2 separate regions of the Homo sapiens genome follow, and region 2 is linked to region 1. Evidence: fine-mapped QTL for protein levels in blood plasma. Region 1 holds a variant in brackets. A gene starts in the other region. All regions are shown on their reverse strands.

Evidence for each region. PIP is the chance, under the fine-mapping model, that this variant and not a neighbour inherited with it causes the effect. The UK Biobank Pharma Proteomics Project read protein levels with antibody pairs (Olink). The fine-mapping took linkage between variants from a reference panel, not from the people measured, so its PIPs are less certain.
Region 2: STAU1 starts here. The variant in region 1 is fine-mapped to the plasma level of the STAU1 protein (UK Biobank, PIP above 0.99).

What each region holds. Positions count from the first base shown.
Region 1 is chr14:106,678,156-106,681,061 of GRCh38, reverse strand. It overlaps IGH and the pseudogene IGHV1-67. Among named protein-coding and RNA genes, the nearest start is that of MIR5195, 170 kb to the left of the region's middle. The variant G/A (reference allele first, on the strand shown) is at 1,362.
Region 2 is chr20:49,187,106-49,190,011 of GRCh38, reverse strand. STAU1 (staufen double-stranded RNA binding protein 1) reads left to right here and starts at 1,678. Exons shown (of 14, transcript NM_017453.4): 1 at 1,678-1,896. RefSeq lists silencers at 1,405-2,074, 2,305-2,464 and an enhancer at 2,865-2,906.

The DNA of each region.
Region 1 (2,906 bases):
GAGAGCACAGCTCCTCACCATGGAGTGGACTTGGAGGATCCTAATTTTGGTGGTCGTAGCTGCAGGTAGGATAATTCTCAGTCCCCAGGACTAAGGTGACTGGGTCCAGTCAAAGGGGGTTTTATCCACTCCCGTGTCCTCTCCACAGGTGCCCAGTCCCAGGTGCAGCTGGTGCAGTCTGGGGATGAGATGAAGAAGGCTGGGGCATCAGTGAAAGTCTCCTGCAAGACTTGTGGATACACCTACCTTCACCAGTTACTCTATGCACTAGGTGCGCCAGGCCCATGCACAAGGGCTTGAGTGGATGGGAAGGATGTGCCCTAGTGATGGCAGCATAAGCTACGCAGAGAAGTTCCAGGGCAGAGTCACCATGACCAGGGACACATCCACGAGCACAGCCTACATGGAGCTGAGCAGCCTGAGATCTGAAGACACGGCCATGTATTACTGTGGGAGAGACACAGTGTGAAAACTCATATCCTGAGAGTGTCAGTAACCCTGAGGGAGGAAGCAGCTGTCCCAGTTTTCAGGATATGACAGGATTTATGGGGTTTAATGTTGTTTAGAAAATAGGTTATATAATTGAGGAAAAGAAGAAATAGAAAGATATATGCATTCTAATTATATAAGAAATATTCTTTTCAAATCTCACCCTATAAGCAAAATTAACAGAGTGGGAAAAGCAGCAATCAATCAAGCTGAAACAAACATTCCCATGGAGGATTTGTGGGGGCAGACGTTTTAAAATTGAATGGGTAAATCATTTAGGGCAAGATTGCTTGATCCAATACTAAGACTAAATGTAATTTCTGAGAAACTGCCTATCTTTTTATATTAAATTTATTATAAAGCAGTTTTAGGGTTACAGCAGATGTAAAAAGTAGAAACAGAGAGCTCCCATGTACCCCTGCCCAACACATACACAGCCCTCCCCATGATCAGCTCCCTGAAACAGAGTCCTAACTGCGTTATGTGGGATGAACCTACATGGACACACTAGTTCTTTCCTTTCCTGGTGGTCCCCCGGTATAACAAACATAAATTATTTTGAAGCGCCACGGGTTCTTCAAGTGGGTTACTGGGAATGATGCCAGTTAGAGGGAAAGTGGGTGGGGCCATTCCTTTTTGCACTCTTTCTTCAGGAATCCATAAAATGCACATTGACTTAGAGCTCATCTGACTCCTGGTTTTCTATGCCCCTTCCCAGAGGGTAAGTTCTCCAAGCGTGGGAGGAAGGTCCATTTCACTAAAAGGCCAGAAGCTTCTGGTGAATTCCATAATGCACAACCTTTTTTGAGAAGTGGAGACTTTGGACATGAGGGATTTCATGTATGATGCCCTGGAGTTGGATTAAATACAGC[G/A]TAAGCTCTTGGGGGTATTTCTGGAGGAGGCCCTTTCTGCAGGAAATTAGAATACATGCAGGGGATCCAGGCAGGAAGAATCACTTCCTTTGACATCGTTTGGCACCTGAAGGAAGCCCTCTCAGCATTGGGCACTGGTCCCACTTGCTGGCTGCACTTTAGCCAGAGGCCTGCGCCTGATCATTCTTGCAGTGGGAGAGCCTTACTGGGGTCACAGGTTATAAAAATGCCTGTCACTCTCCAGCTGAGCAAGTCCATATGCGTGCTTGTCAGTGTCAACCCCATGATGAGTGCACTCTGGAAGGTGACAATCTGCACACAAACCTCCTCCCACTAGTTACCCACTACTATACACTACTTTAAAAATTAATACTTATAATTATATAATATAATATATATTATATAACTATATAAAAATGATTATGATGATGACATTTGGCTGTTGCAATTTCTTTAGGATCTCTGCATCTCTCTTCACTAGACATGTAAGTCTTCAATTTCTTGTCCCTGTGACACGTTGCCCAGTGTTTGAAGTCAAAGTTGTGCCGAGTACCTGAGTATGTCCTCAGAGAAGATCTCAGCAATGGTTGATTGTTCTACAGGGACTTTTCCAGGAGACCTGTCCCAGGGAGTCATGAGGTTCCTCTGGAAATACTAGCCCCTGCAGGAGATGAGACGGAAGCAGGAGAATCAAGAGCAGGTGACAACATTGTCAGCAGGAGGCTCCAGATGCTTTCCAGACACAGTGAACCTTCACCCACTTGCCACACTGCACAGGGAGTTTGCAGGGGCACAATGAGGTGCCTGTCTGTGGGATGTTGGGGGACAAAGTGAAAACCTGAGCTCAGCATCCAGGAAAGTATGAACTCCAGCCCTGATAATATGTAGCCTGTGTTTTCTTTCCTTCTACGTGAACACTTTGCCTTATTGTTAAGAACAGAGGATTCTAGCTCTAAGTGCACGGATTGCAGACAGCTATGACTTTCCTCCGGGCCAGGCTCCTCTTAATGTACTTCTTGGACTTATTTGTTGATGAAGGTTGGTTCCATTAAATACCAAAACAGGGTTCATATTAAAGAAAAATGAAAGAGTGACAGGTAGATTAAACCCGAGCATCCAGTTCCAGTGATTCTTTGACCCTGCCTTCCCAAAAATCTCCGATATGAACAATGACAATGCCCTCCATGGTTAGATTATATTATAAACTAGATTGAGCTAGAGTGTTTGGTGTATTAAGTCACTATTTTTTTTAGCTTCCCTGTTAGTTTTTTGTTTGTGTGTTAGCATTTACTTTAAAATTCTATTAATCAGTTCTCTAGTAGGTAGAAATTCATCTGAGAGTTTCTTCTCTTGTTGTCCACTTTGATAAGATTTCCAGAAGACATAAGAACCCTTTTTGTTTGCAAAAATATTCCAAAGTTTTACACTAACTAGGAACATATATACTTAATTCTAATTTTTAATTTGTTTAAAAGCTCTAATAAGTGCACTGTTTTCTGCCTTTTGAGTTAATTTCACAACACATAGGAGAATATATCCTAAATG
Region 2 (2,906 bases), not on the chromosome of region 1:
GGTGAAAGTCCTTTGACTATTTTTGGTGTTCTGAAATTCAGTGTCATTGCACTTCACAAGAAGCAATGTAAGGAGGCAAGTGTCCTCCCAGGCTTCGCTAAGGCTCCAAAGCCTTGTTTGGAGGGGCCTCTTCAGACACAGCAGCTCGTATTTTGAATTTATATTCCGTTGGCAAGAGAGATTGAGCAATTATTAGATTGAGAGACATTTAAGAAAGAGAGAATTATTTTTAAATAGTGGGGCGGCAGTCCCAGAGTGAGCGGGAGAGAGAAGCTCTGTGCACCTGCAGTTCCTTCATTCATTCTCAGTTTCTTGGACCTCTCACAACGCGAGCATAATTTTCGCTGAGTGTGCAGAAGTTCAAGATTCTTTTTTTTTTTTTTTTTTTTTTTGAGACAGAGTCTCACTCTGTTGCCCAGGTTGGAGTGCAATGGCGTGATCTCGGCTCACTGCAACCTCCGTCTCCCGGGTTCAAGAGATTCTCCTGCCTCAGCCTCCCAAGTAGCTGTGATTACAGGCGCCCACCACTGCATCCGGCTAGTAGAGACGGGGTTTCACCATGTTAGTCAGGCTGGTCTCGAACTCCTGACCTCAGGTGATCCGCCCACCTCGGCCTCCCAAAGTGCCGGGATTACAGGCGTGAGCCACTGCGCCTGGCCAAGATTCTTTACTGGCCACCCTCTCTCCAACCTCCCATACAATACAGCTGCTAAAAACCACTTAGTTTATCTAGGTCTGGGTGAAATAAATAGTAATCTGGCACTTCTCGTCTTTTTTTTTTTTTTTTTTTTTTTTTTTTTTTTTTTTTTTGAGACCAGTGTCTCTTTGTCGCCAAGGCTGGAGTGCAGCGGCGCGATCTCAGCTCACTGCAATCTCCGCCTCCCGGGTTCAAGCGATTCTCCTGCCTCAGCCTCCCGAGTAGCTGTTTACCTACAGGCGCCCGCCACCACGCCCGGCTAATTTTTTGTATTTTCAGTAGAGACGGGGGTTTCACCGTGGTAGCCAGGATGGTCTCGATCTCTTGACCTAGTGATCCGCCCGCCTCGGCCTCCCAAAGTGCCGGGATTAGAGGCCTGAGCCAACGCGCCCGGGCCATTGTCTTTTATCTCACTACACATTTTTCAATTTTATTTATTGTGTATTTTACTTACACAAGAATGTAAGCTCCACGAGGGCAGGGATTTTTGTCAGTTCACCACTACATTCTTAGCTCTTGGAGCAATGCCTTGCATATGGCAAGCATTTAATGAACATTTACAGATGGAGGAAGAAACAACTGCAGGAAGGAGAGAAAGGAAGGCCAGAGGCAGGACAAGAGGAAGAAGCGACAGCAAGGAAGGAAAAAGGAAGTGGAGGAGGAAAGAAGGTAGGCTGGGTTCTCCCAGACCCGCTTCGAGTCCAGCAGGCAGCGCGAAACTCCCACCAGAACTACAACTCCCGGCAGGCCCCGGGACTCAGGACGGGCCGCTGCGGTCCAGGCGGGACAGGGCGCTCCTCCCGCTGGGCCCCCGGCGTGCCTTGCGAGCGCAGGCTCCGCCGCAGTGCCAGCCGGAACTTGTGGTTCGGACCGTGGGTGGGGGTGGGGCCGGGGCCGGGCCTGGAGGCGGGCGGGGGCCGGGGGCGGGCGCCTGCCCCTCCCCCGTCACTTCCTGCCGGGCTGCGGGCGCCTGAGCGGCTCTTCAGCGTTTGCGCCGGCGGCTGCCGCGTCTCTCTCGGCTCCCGCTTCCTTTGACCGCCTCCCCCCCCCGGCCCGGCGGCGCCCGCCTCCTCCACGGCCACTCCGCCTCTTCCCTCCCTTCGTCCCTTCTTCCTCTCCCTTTTTTCCTTCTTCCTTCCCCTCCTCGCCGCCACCGCCCAGGACCGCCGGCCGGGGGACGAGCTCGGAGCAGCAGCCAGGTGAGGCGGCCGGGCCGGGCCGGGCCTGGTGGGGCCCTCGCGGGCGCCGCCGCGGTGGGGAGGTGGGCGGCGGGTGGGGCCTAGGCCTCGGCGGGCCCGCGCACCCCTCCGCCTTCTCCCGGGCCTCTCTCTAGCCCGCGGGGCCTTCCCGGAGGAGGCGGGTCCTCTTGCGTTCCCTCGCCTCGGGGCGCCCTGAGGCCTGGCCCCGGGCGCCCCCATCCCCTCCAGCCCTCACCGGTGCCACAAACAGGTGCTGCGGCCGCCTTTCCTCGTCCCGCATGGCGCGCGCGGGGATGCCGAAGTTATTCCCGGGGCTGGGGCGCAGGCGGGGGGGGGGGGGGGTCCCTGCTTCAGGTCCCCGAGGGCTGGAGCCTCTCAGTGTCGCCGGCCCAGGTCTGTAGCTTAGTGGTTAAGAGCACGGCCCAGGTGTCCAAAACGGGTGCCGAACCCGGCTCTGCCCCGTTAGGCAAGACACTTAAAAAGTCTTTGTGTCTTGGTTGGAAAAGGGGCTGCTAATACCGTCCCTGCCTCTTAAGGTTCAGTGAAATGGGGCGTGTAAAGCGCTTATCAGAGTGCCAGACCCACAGCGTGTCCCAGTAAACCGTCTGCATAATTTATTAGCGTGATATGAAGGTATAATTTAATGGGCAGAGTGGATAGAAGTTGACCTACCTATCCGTTTGGGTTTCTTAGAGGCTGCAGTGTTCCGCGTGCCCATGTCCAGAGCCAGGGCATTGTTTTCAGTTGTTAACATCTGAAAGGGGCGTACGCTTAATTGGGACACTGTAGTTGACAGTCTGTAAACGATGGATGCTGTTTCTTTCCATCTCCGCTTAGGCAACTGCAGGATATTCACCATCTCCCGCAGGATGAGCAACCTGTCCATTTCTCCCCGCCCCGCCATCATCCAGCTTCTTCTTGTCATTCCATTTCTGGGAAAGTTGCTGGCAGAAGCTTCCCTTGAGTTGAGCAAACCTATCTAGAGCACTTGCTGTGTGTTGGGCTCTGAA